Linked DNA regions of Homo sapiens: region 1 is linked to region 2. Evidence: fine-mapped expression QTL. A gene starts in region 2. The other region holds a variant in brackets. All regions are shown on one strand. Distances are from middle to middle. Region 1 overlaps PANX1 (pannexin 1). Region 2 holds the start of PANX1 (pannexin 1).

Region 1 (5,215 bases), 50 kb after region 2:
GGGAAAAACTACTACTGTACTTTACAAATAAAAGTCTGAAGTTTAGTTTCTGATAATGTGCCGATGTTGGCTTCTTAGTCTTAACAAATATATCACAGAAATATGAGTCATTAGCAATGGGGGAAACTGAGTGAGGGGCTTATGGGAATGCTCTGTACATCTGAAATTACAGTGAGGGCCATGTTGTGGGGGCTGCCGTCCACTCCCAGAAATGTTTTGAGGGGAGGGTTTCATGTCAACTTACGGCCATCATGGCCTCGTCCATTACAACTCTGAGAAATGGTGGAGATAGACCCATCCAAAAGTAAGGAGAAGTTTTCCAGAGGAGTAAAGTAATTGAGAGTGTGTTAGATTGGAAAAAGATGTCTCTGGGGTCAGAGAGGTTGGCAACATAGTCTGACTCTCACTTACCAGCTTTGTGATCTGGGGCCAGAAACTGCTCCCGGCTTTCTCTTCCCATTTGCAGAATGGAGCCATCTATAGAGTCCCTGCCAGGGTTGCTGTGAGGACTGAACATAACGTGTCCACCTAGCTAATCTTTTTGTGGTTACCTGGAGTGTTTGAGTGCCTGTTCTATGCCAGGCCCTTTGCTAAGCATTTTCCATCAATTATCTCCTTTAATCTTCATGACACCTCTATTCCATGACCATTTCATACATAAGGAAACTGAGGGTCAGAGACTTTGAAAACTAACCAGATGGATGGGCTAAATGCTGGGGACAGCGGGAGCCATTGCAGGTACCTGAGCAGGGTGAACTTGGCGGTTCCAAGAGTTAAGCCTCAGTAATGGTGTACAGGAGAGAATAGAGGCAGGGAGAGCCACTTGGTAAGCACAGAGTGAGGGTTCTAATTAGGGAACAGAAAGGAAAAGAAGCAGTTTTGTCCAAGAAGGCAAAGAGCAAACAAAAAGCAATACTCTTATGTCTTATTGCTGATTAGAAGATCACGCAAAAGGATAGTCGAAAGTGACATCAAGGGCCTAGACCAGGGTCAGCAAACTTCTGCAGAGGGCCAGATCATAAAGTTTTTTTGTCATTGCAGATCACATGGTCACTGTCGCAGCTACTTAGTTCTGCAGAGTAGACATGATTGCCCAAGGCCGCAATGCTGAGCTTCAATTCAGATCTGCACTGACTGCAATTTACGGTCTTCCTAAGTCTTCTGCTGAGGCTAAGCCACCTCTGACCAACTGGTGGTCCTGGTTACTGGGGTGCTCCTCACCCTCTCTGACGTGTGAATCCCCTCTTGTTTGGTGTGTGTCTGCACCCTGATGTGGATGCTCTCCTCTTGATTCCCTTGCCCGTTGTGGATGGCCTCTCTGAGCCCAAGTTTATCCAACTATACGATGAGGGTGTTGGACTGCCTTCAAAGTCTGTTCCACATTCATTCTGCATTCTGTGAATTCAACTGCTTATTTCAGCTGTCTTATTGGGATGATTACTGAATCACTGAAGTCGAAGCTTTTCTAATTTGTTTTGGGGGAAGTTACATGTTTCTTTGGCATTTTCCCAGATTCCAGAGTAGGGCAAAAATGGAGCCGTATGCCTTAGTTGCTTCTTAAAACCATAAAAGTTAACAAAAACCCAGCAGAAGCCTTCGTGATAGCTGCAGGTTTCTTAACTGGGATTTTGTTCAGGGAACGGGAGTAATTTTATTTTTTTATTTTCCTTCTGTGATTAGAACGTACACACCATGTGTCACCATGCAGTTGCTGATTACTTCAAATTAATACCTATGGAAGAAAAAAAAATAGGTAGTTACCTGTGACAGGTATTACCTGGACAGGGGAATTTAGCCATAAGAAGTAGTTATTAGGTAATGAGCCCAATTTCCACAATACACATTTGTCTCAAGATGTGAGAAAATGAGAGCATCACTTGGCGCCATAGGTTACTGCATGGGGGGTTTGTTAAGCCCATGATTTGTTCTCTTGTTTTTCAGTTTTTCCCCTACATCCTGCTGCTCTTTGCGATCCTCCTGTACCTGCCCCCGCTGTTCTGGCGTTTCGCAGCTGCTCCTCATATTTGCTCAGACTTGAAGTTTATCATGGAAGAACTTGACAAAGTTTACAACCGTGCAATTAAGGCTGCAAAGAGTGCGCGTGACCTTGACATGAGAGATGGAGCCTGCTCAGTTCCAGGTGTTACCGAGAACTTAGGGCAAAGGTAACTTAGCCCCAGCAGGCAGCTCATCGGGTTTTGTAGGACAAATTCTCTGCCCTTCTACTGCCAGTCTGGGCCCAGAGTTCTCATTGCTAGGAGGCGGGGCAGGAGTGGAAGCAGGGGGACGTCATGCACCTAGTGACAGCCTGTAGTATCCCGGGATGTCCACTCTCCCCAAATCTCACCGCGACCCATCCTACCCATTTGTTTATCCTTCTGTCAAGACTCATTCCCTTGATGAGTGAAACATTACATCTCATTTTAAAAATGCAGTTCTTGTAGGGGTAACAGATTGAGGTGCTATATGAAGCTTGCTTGCTTTGATCTATTTAACTCCTTAATGGAGACGCACAGAGGATTTCAAGGCAGCTGAGCAAGGGATGAGAGAGAAATGGGGAATGAGTAGGTCGTGGCTTGCCTTTTCACAACCTTCTTTTGGTTCTTGTTATTGAATAATTGGAATAATAATAAGAGCCATCATTTTTTGAATATTTAATATATCTCACACACCGTATTGAGTTATTTAAGTACATTATCTCCTTTAACCCTCAGAGCAACATTACTAGTGCATTTGTTAACCTCCTCCTCCACTTTTATTCTGGATAAAAATACTCTTCTGTAGCTGTAAGTGAGAGTCTGGGAACTGAACCATGCCCTTTAGACCCCATAGTTTTTGCCCATACCCCCTGAGTTGTCCCACCCCTTGCCTGTAAGAGGCGTATGCTTACACATATTTAGGATTTACCAGATGCCAGGCATCACTCTAAAAATTTCCAAATATTAACTCATTTAATTAACTAGGCCTTCTGTTAAATATTAAGGGGAAAAGCATTTTATTATTCCTTTTCTTCCTCCTCTTTTAAACGGATTTTATTTTTGACT[A/G]CTGACGTTGTAGGTAAAGAAGTATGGGTGTTTGAAATTTTTAGTGTGACATTGTTGAATGTGTATCTGCCTTTAATATTTGATGGTCTTGATGAGTGCCTAAGTTATTTTTGTTTCCTTTATTTTTTAGTTTGTGGGAGGTATCTGAAAGCCACTTCAAGTACCCAATTGTGGAGCAGTACTTGAAGACAAAGAAAAATTCTAATAATTTAATCATCAAGTACATTAGCTGCCGCCTGCTGACACTCATCATTATACTGTTAGCGTGTATCTACCTGGGCTATTACTTCAGCCTCTCCTCACTCTCAGACGAGTTTGTGTGCAGCATCAAATCAGGGATCCTGAGAAACGACAGCACCGTGCCCGATCAGTTTCAGTGCAAACTCATTGCCGTGGGCATCTTCCAGTTGCTCAGTGTCATTAACCTTGTGGTTTATGTCCTGCTGGCTCCCGTGGTTGTCTACACGCTGTTTGTTCCATTCCGACAGAAGACAGATGTTCTCAAAGTGTACGAAATCCTCCCCACTTTTGATGTTCTGCATTTCAAATCTGAAGGGTACAACGATTTGAGCCTCTACAATCTCTTCTTGGAGGAAAATATAAGTGAGGTCAAGTCATACAAGTGTCTTAAGGTACTGGAGAATATTAAGAGCAGTGGTCAGGGGATCGACCCAATGCTACTCCTGACAAACCTTGGCATGATCAAGATGGATGTTGTTGATGGCAAAACTCCCATGTCTGCAGAGATGAGAGAGGAGCAGGGGAACCAGACGGCAGAGCTCCAAGGTAGGGTTTGCTTTTGGCAGAGGCTACGGGAGTCTACCGAGAGCCTTTGCAGCAGCCTTGTGGGAATATTGACAGTCTTTACCCTGCCCATCATTTAAACCATTTCCAAGCATTAAAAACCTTAATACCAAGGTGCGGGGTAGGGGGAGTGGGAACCCCTCAGTATAAGGAGAGAGAGGAAAAGAATTGGTGCTGCTCTACATTTCCAAAGAAGAATAACTTCTGTGCTTTTTCTGGTTTTTCCCTCTTCTCTGTCTGTCTCACACTCTCTCTTGCTCAGCAATCTTCCTTGTCTTTCTTGCTTATTTTTGTCTTATCTTACTGGCTTTCCTTTCTACCTCTGATCTCCTTCTCTGTTACTCTCTGACTTTCTCTTTCAAAGGGGACTAAAAGTTTATTGATTCTTTTAGTTAGGCCAAGAAGCAAAACATGGTATAGACTGTGAGAGGAATTTTTGGCAGAAGAAAAATTGATTAGTATTGGTAATTCCTGCTATGTTTCTGTCATAAATATTTGTTTTCAATTTTGACAGGTATGAACATAGACAGTGAAACTAAAGCAAATAATGGAGAGAAGAATGCCCGACAGAGACTTCTGGATTCTTCTTGCTGATGATTTTTTTCCTTGAGCTGTAAATCTGTGACTTCTGCGACATGGGATTTAATTTGGCTAAAGCACCCCTGTTGGTTTCACAGCTGGTTTGCAATAAATGGTTCTTGGTGGAGATACTGAGCATGTCTTATTGAGTCCCTAATGGAAATGGTGATCAACAAAAGGTTATGGAAGAATGGTTTATGAACTTCCCATAGGAAGCACCTGAGAGATAGTAAACTGCAGCAAGTAACTATGTGTAAGTCCTCATCAAATGAAAAGCAGAAAGACAAGAACAATTAGTCAAGAGCAGTAGCCCTGTCAGAGCCTCGGAGCAATACCTTTCTGTACCCGTGGTGAGACAAGACCCAGAGCTACTGGAAAACAAGCACTTTGGAAGATTTGTTTTGTTTTCATGGAATAATAATATGTCAGGGTATAATTTAACGTGAGTTTCTTATGTGCCCTTAAAGACTGTTAGACAAGAAAAGCATTCACTGGCTAATAATCCATAGGTCGACCTATGTCCTAAGTTAGGTGTAAGGTCCGATGCCTTGGCCCACACTCGAGCTCTCTTTACATTGTTAGTTGTCAACCTTGGCTGATGGAAATCCCGTAACCACTATTTGTTGCACTGTGCCTTGAAGGGCAGCAGGCCCAAGTGCTGCTCTGACTGAAAACTGAGTTAACAAGATGAAATCTAAAGGATATTCACAGTGACTTCAATTCAGGAAGAATGCTTCCAAAAGAGCCCAGTGGGGAAATCTGACATCACAGAAGACATTAATTCAGTC
Region 2 (5,484 bases):
GCATTTGTGCTAAGTGTTGAGGATAAAAGTGGTACACATGGGCATGGGCCTACCCTCAAGAAGCCGATCACATAAAGTGGTGGCAAACACTAAATAAATGAATAAATATTTGTTGAGTTGCAATGGTGACTATTTTTAAGAAGGAAAAATAGAGAACAATGACAGATGAAATGTACCTAGATTCACAAGGTGCCAGGCACTGGGCACTACCCACGTGTTAACTCATTTGGTCCTTATCACAGTCCTAAGAGGTACAACCTTTTTACAGATGAGAAAACTGAGACACAGGAGAGTCAAAGAACTCCCCAAGACTAATAGCTAGTAACTAGTGTGGCTAGTATTATGGGAGAATTTCACAAAGGGACCTAATCTAGTCTGTCTACTTAGGGAAGGCTTTCCCAGGGAAGTGACATCAAGCTGAGGCCAGAAGGGTGAATAAAGGTGGGCCAGGCAAAGAGGCCACTGTGGGGAGTGTTTTGGGTGGGAAGGCCTGGAGGAGGCCAAGGGCTTAGCTAACTTGAAGAACTGAAAGGAAAGCAGTGAAGCTGGTGGTGAGGTAGGCAGAGGCCATGCTAAGAAATTTGTATTTTATGCTAAAAACAATGTACACTTTAAGTAGAAAAGATGATCCGACTGGAGTTTTGAAAAGCTCATCCTGGCAGCTGTAGAGGAGAATGGAGGGGGACCCTGTCTCACATATTTCCTATATGTGGTTAGGAGACAGGATGGTGAGTTGAATTGGGTATTGGCAGTGCAGGTGGAGGGGTGTCAGATTTGCTATATTTAGGAGAGAGAAGCAAGAGAATTTGAAAATTGGTTATGGCAGCTGTGAGAAATGGAGTGTTGAAGATGGTGCTCCAGGATTCCGACTTGGGTGCACAGGTGGCTGGTGGTACATTTAGTAAGATGGGGAAGATGGAGTTCAGGTTTAAGGGGAAGATGAAGACTGAAGTCCTGGCCGTTATGAGTTTGAAGCCCTATGAGCCATCTACGCGGAGAGAGCTGTATACGCTCTTGGATGTGTGTTTAGCGGCCAGGCTGGGGTGGAGAGGTACATGTGGGAGTTGAGGCTTGTATCTGTGGACCCACAGAGAAGGGAGCCAAGCCCTGCCCCAAGGAGCCCTCATGTTTGCAGGTCCTGCCTGCTTCAAATGTTACTGGTGATAACCTACATGTCACATTTGACAGGGCTTCCAAACTAAGCCATCTAAGAAAGGTCTTATGATTCATGGCTTAGATCCTGTCCCTGAGTAAAAAATCTTACTGTGAGTCCTTCAAATCCTTTTGTCAGTTCCTCAAACTGCTGATGTACTGATTAGTATGTAAAATACTGACATTGAAAAGAACACTGACTTGTTTCTGAATCATATAAACTTTGATTTTCTTGTGCACAAAACATTTTAGCCTGTATGTTGTCATCTGCAGCCAGTGACTGTAACCTGTGTACCATACCCTCCGATGAAAAAAATCCCACCTCTGATATAAGGGGTCCTCCTCCCTTTTCCTAAACTTTCTTCTAAAACCCTTCCAACGTGTAACAAATTTTGAAACATGCCCAACTTTGCTGGTAAGTCTTCTTGGGTGGATCCTCACATTTAGCTTCCAATAAATCAAATTATTTCTACTTCAACAGCCTTAATTTCCGTGGACACTGGTCAGAGTATTTCCTCCTGTCTTTCCATCATCCACTTCCTATGAGCTGTTCAGAAGCAGCTCTCTGCAGCCCCAACACCCACCTACCTGCAGGCCCCCCTCTCTCTGCTGGCTCCCGGAACAAGGCTCTGATTGGGATGGCAGAGGAAAGAGAAACGGGACCAGCAGCGCTACTCAGGCCTCGAAACTCCACACTCACTACCGTTTCCGCGCCACCCTCTCACGCGGAGCTCCTGGAAGGGTCCAGCGCTCCCTCTGCAAGGCACCGTCGGTCTACACCGCTCGATTGGCCTTTTATGGCACTGACTGTTCTTTGAAGCTTTTGCAGCTCCTTCTAACCCGATTTCACCGTGTTGGAAATGTTGGGGGTGGGGCGTAAAGGGGGCCATCCCATCCACAGAAAGAGTCGCTTGCAGAAATGATTTTAAAACTCCCGGGTGCCAGGACGTGAGGAGAATCCGGCAGGGAGGGACGGGAGAATTTCCAAAGGTGCCGCTCAGTGGGAAAATCCCTTTGTCAGAGAGTGGCCCGAGGGGCGCGGAATGCAGCCGCGCCCACCCCGCCCCGCGTCACCGCGTCTTCCGGAAGCTCCACGCCCCTGGGTACTTGGTTTCCCCGCATGGTTCCGGAAGAGCGCGGCGCAGCTGGCTGTGAGCGCAGGGCTATCCCGGCGGCCGCTTCGGCAGCCAGGGCGGCGCGGAGGGGCAGGGCCAGAGGGAAGCGCTTTGTTCCGCGCGTGGTTCCCGCGCCTGGGGGTGCGCGGGAGAGGCGCGAATCCGAGTGCCGCGCGCGGCCCGGGGACTTGCACGGGCGTGCGGGGTGGAACCGCAGGAAGCGGAGCTCTCGGGTTCCCGCCCCGCCCCGCCCCGCCGGCGGCGGAGGCAGCGAGCGCGAGAGCCCAGCGGAGTCGCTGGGAGCCTGAGGCACCGAGACACAAAGGCAGGCGGGATGCGGGAGCAGGCAAAGGGAAAGCGAAAGCCGCGCGCCCGGCCGGTGACTGGGTGAAGGCGCCGCGCAGCTTTCCCGACGCCGGCTGTACCCGGACCTCCTGGTCGAGCCTGGCGCGCCGCAGCCATGGCCATCGCTCAACTGGCCACGGAGTACGTGTTCTCGGATTTCTTGCTGAAGGAGCCCACGGAGCCCAAGTTCAAGGGGCTGCGACTGGAGCTGGCTGTGGACAAGATGGTCACGTGCATTGCGGTGGGGCTGCCCCTGCTGCTCATCTCGCTGGCCTTCGCGCAGGAGATCTCGATTGGTAAGCCTCGCCCAGGACGGAGGGGAGTGGCCGCCCCGGTCTGGCCCGGTGAGCTGCGATTTTACGGCTCACAGGCCCGAGTCTGGGTACGCCCAGCTGTGATGGTCGTGAGCGTCAGGAAGGGCAGTGGCCCCAGTTTTATGGTCCAAAGCGTTCTTTGCCCAGGTGTTTCATTGGTACCCTGGTCTACTCTGCTCGCATCCCTACTCCTCAGTTCTTTTGTTCCTCATGCCCCTCTGATCGGACTGTGGCTTATAGTTTATGTTCCACCCTTAGAACTGGCACCTTGCCACCAGATTTGCCAAGAATAGCTGTGTCCCCGTTTTTCACCCCTGTCTCCTACATATTTGTCCAGCCGCCTAAAATTTTACACCAGAGAAGTTCCTGAGTGGCTACATGGAGGATGTGAAGACCGGTGCTCCATGAGAAGTGTGTTCTTTCAGTGTCTTACATATAATTGGTATTTGCTGAGATCTTAGCTCTCTAGGGTTGTGAATGATAGGAAATATCTGCACTTGGCAGGCATTAGAGGGATCCTCAACTTGGACGGTCTTACAAATGTGAGATGAACAAGTCCCCTTCCTGTAAATTATCATTTGAGCTTCATAACAGTTGTGTGAGATTGGAAAGTCTGGTGGTTTGGGCAGGATCACGTGGCTACGTGCCTTACCTTCCTCATCAGCTGTTCTGACTCTCCACACAGGAGAGAGTGTTTATGAACCAACAGGAAGGTAGCGCAGGAGGGTTAAATACAGTTCTGTGGCAGGGGAAGAGAGAGGACCCAGTGCGGCTGGACTTTGGGAAAACTTTTGTCAGAGGGTGGGTGGGATTTGGACAAGAAGGAGTAAGACCTTTGTTAAGGTTTTGAGATGGCAGAGAATGTTATATGTTCCTGGAAAGAGAGACACAGTGACTCTCCTAGCCAAGGCAGGAGGATAAGTCAGAGTTCCTGGAGTCTGAGAGTGAATATGGGCCTGGGTCAGCCTGGAACAGAAGAGTGTAGGCTGATGGTTTCAGAACTGTGAAGTTATTGTTTGAGCAGAGGACAGACTGGTTGAATGATGGTGGCATTTAGGGTCTGGGAAGAAGGTGAGAGGATGGGGCCTGGAGGGCTGGGTGCCAGAGAGCAAGGCATCGGCTGAGGTCTTGTGCACAGAGGGTGTGAAGAGTGGAAGAAAATGGGTGGGTGATTGCTGTGCGATCAAGGAGTAAATAAGCAGCACTTGAGTACCTAGTATTTAATAGGCCATGAACGGCAGTACTGGTCAAACGTGCTGCGGAGGTTGTATGTCTGGGTGAGTGGAGTGTGGTGTTGGTGGTGATGGGAATTGTGAAGTTGAGGGAATAGTTGATTAGGAAAGAATGACTATGAGTGTGATTTTGCAATCTGCAGCACTAAGTTGTTCAGCTTGGCAGGAAGTTGCCAAATTCATTGTGGAAAATAGTTTTTAGTTTTCCTGCTCTTTGCGCAGGCATAGTCATCGGGATGTTCTTTAAGTTTCCATTTGACAGTGGATTGAGGCTTCCAGCTGAAAGCAAAACCACCAAGTAGCATGAGTCCTGGAGATAATCTCTCCCTTTGGTCAATTCCTCCTTCAGTACTGGCTGTGTGCTGAACTCGGTGCTGACCTCCAAGGACCCGGGAGTAAAAGAGGCATGATCCCTGTCTTGGAGGTGCAAGTCTTGGGTACCTGGTTGGGACAGAAAGGCAGGAGGAAGGAGTTAGTCACCCTCTGTGACCAATCTCCACCTCTAGCACATGTACTAGAGGGACTCCTAAGGCACCTGTACCTGTAATGCCTTAGATACGTCTAAATTGGTGGGCTGTCTGAGAGGTATTTTTGGGGTATTGGGAGTGGTTTTAACTAGCAAGAGTTTGAGCTCATGCTGTGTGCATAGCACTGTTGTGTGCTGAGGGAGATGGGAAAGGATTTTGAGACCTTGTTCTTGCCCTGCCCTCTCCCTGCCCTGTGGCAGTTTACTATGCAGTTGGGCACTAGAAGGTATCTGTTAGCAGGTAAGTCATTCAGCTGTGTGTAATTCAGCACCCAGCCAGGTGTTGAGCTATGAGCTCCAGGCTGGTGAAGGTTGGCAGGCACTTGGGTGAGGAGCTGTCAAGCAGACTCCCATGTTTTCTGAAGTGTTTTCAGGAGTTCCAGGGGAGGACAGACATGTGGGATGAAGCTAACAGGACCAGGGAAGACCTATTAGATTAGGTATACATTTAGATAAAACCAGAAGAAGGGCTTTTGAGAAGAGGGGAGAGGTACATAGATTAATACATGGAGTTGGTACAGTGGGAGGGATCATGTCATGCAGCATTTAATTTTGTGTAGTTAGTAGTATGCACTCAGCCAAAAACAAACCAAAAAAAAGAACAGCAATAAAGGGAGAATGAAGTAATTGAAATGGAGCTGGCACTTTGCCCACCATATTGGCCAGTGAACTCAGGCCCCGGGAAGACACTGAGATAAGGCCTGCAGACTTAAAACATGGCTTCATCCTTCCTCTGTTGATAATTACTGCTTCCCTCTCTGGTGCTTGGAATACTCTTTTGTTGAACTTAACACAGAGCT

What was found. PIP is the estimated chance that this variant, and not a neighbour inherited with it, causes the effect.
Region 1: its variant is the best candidate, but not a certain one, in a credible set for the expression of PANX1 in tibial artery (GTEx, PIP 0.59).

The regions. Positions count from the first base shown.
Region 1 is chr11:94,176,428-94,181,642 of GRCh38, forward strand. It overlaps PANX1 (pannexin 1), which reads left to right. Exons shown (of 5, transcript NM_015368.4): 3 at 1,942-2,165; 4 at 3,175-3,830; 5 at 4,363-5,215. The coding sequence ends at 4,442. Among named protein-coding and RNA genes, the nearest start is that of PANX1, 50 kb to the left of the region's middle. The variant A/G (reference allele first, on the strand shown) is at 3,045.
Region 2 is chr11:94,126,586-94,132,069 of GRCh38, forward strand. PANX1 (pannexin 1) reads left to right here and starts at 2,256. Exons shown (of 5, transcript NM_015368.4): 1 at 2,256-2,908. The coding sequence starts at 2,728. RefSeq lists enhancers at 2,189-2,248, 2,569-2,828 and a silencer at 2,479-2,548.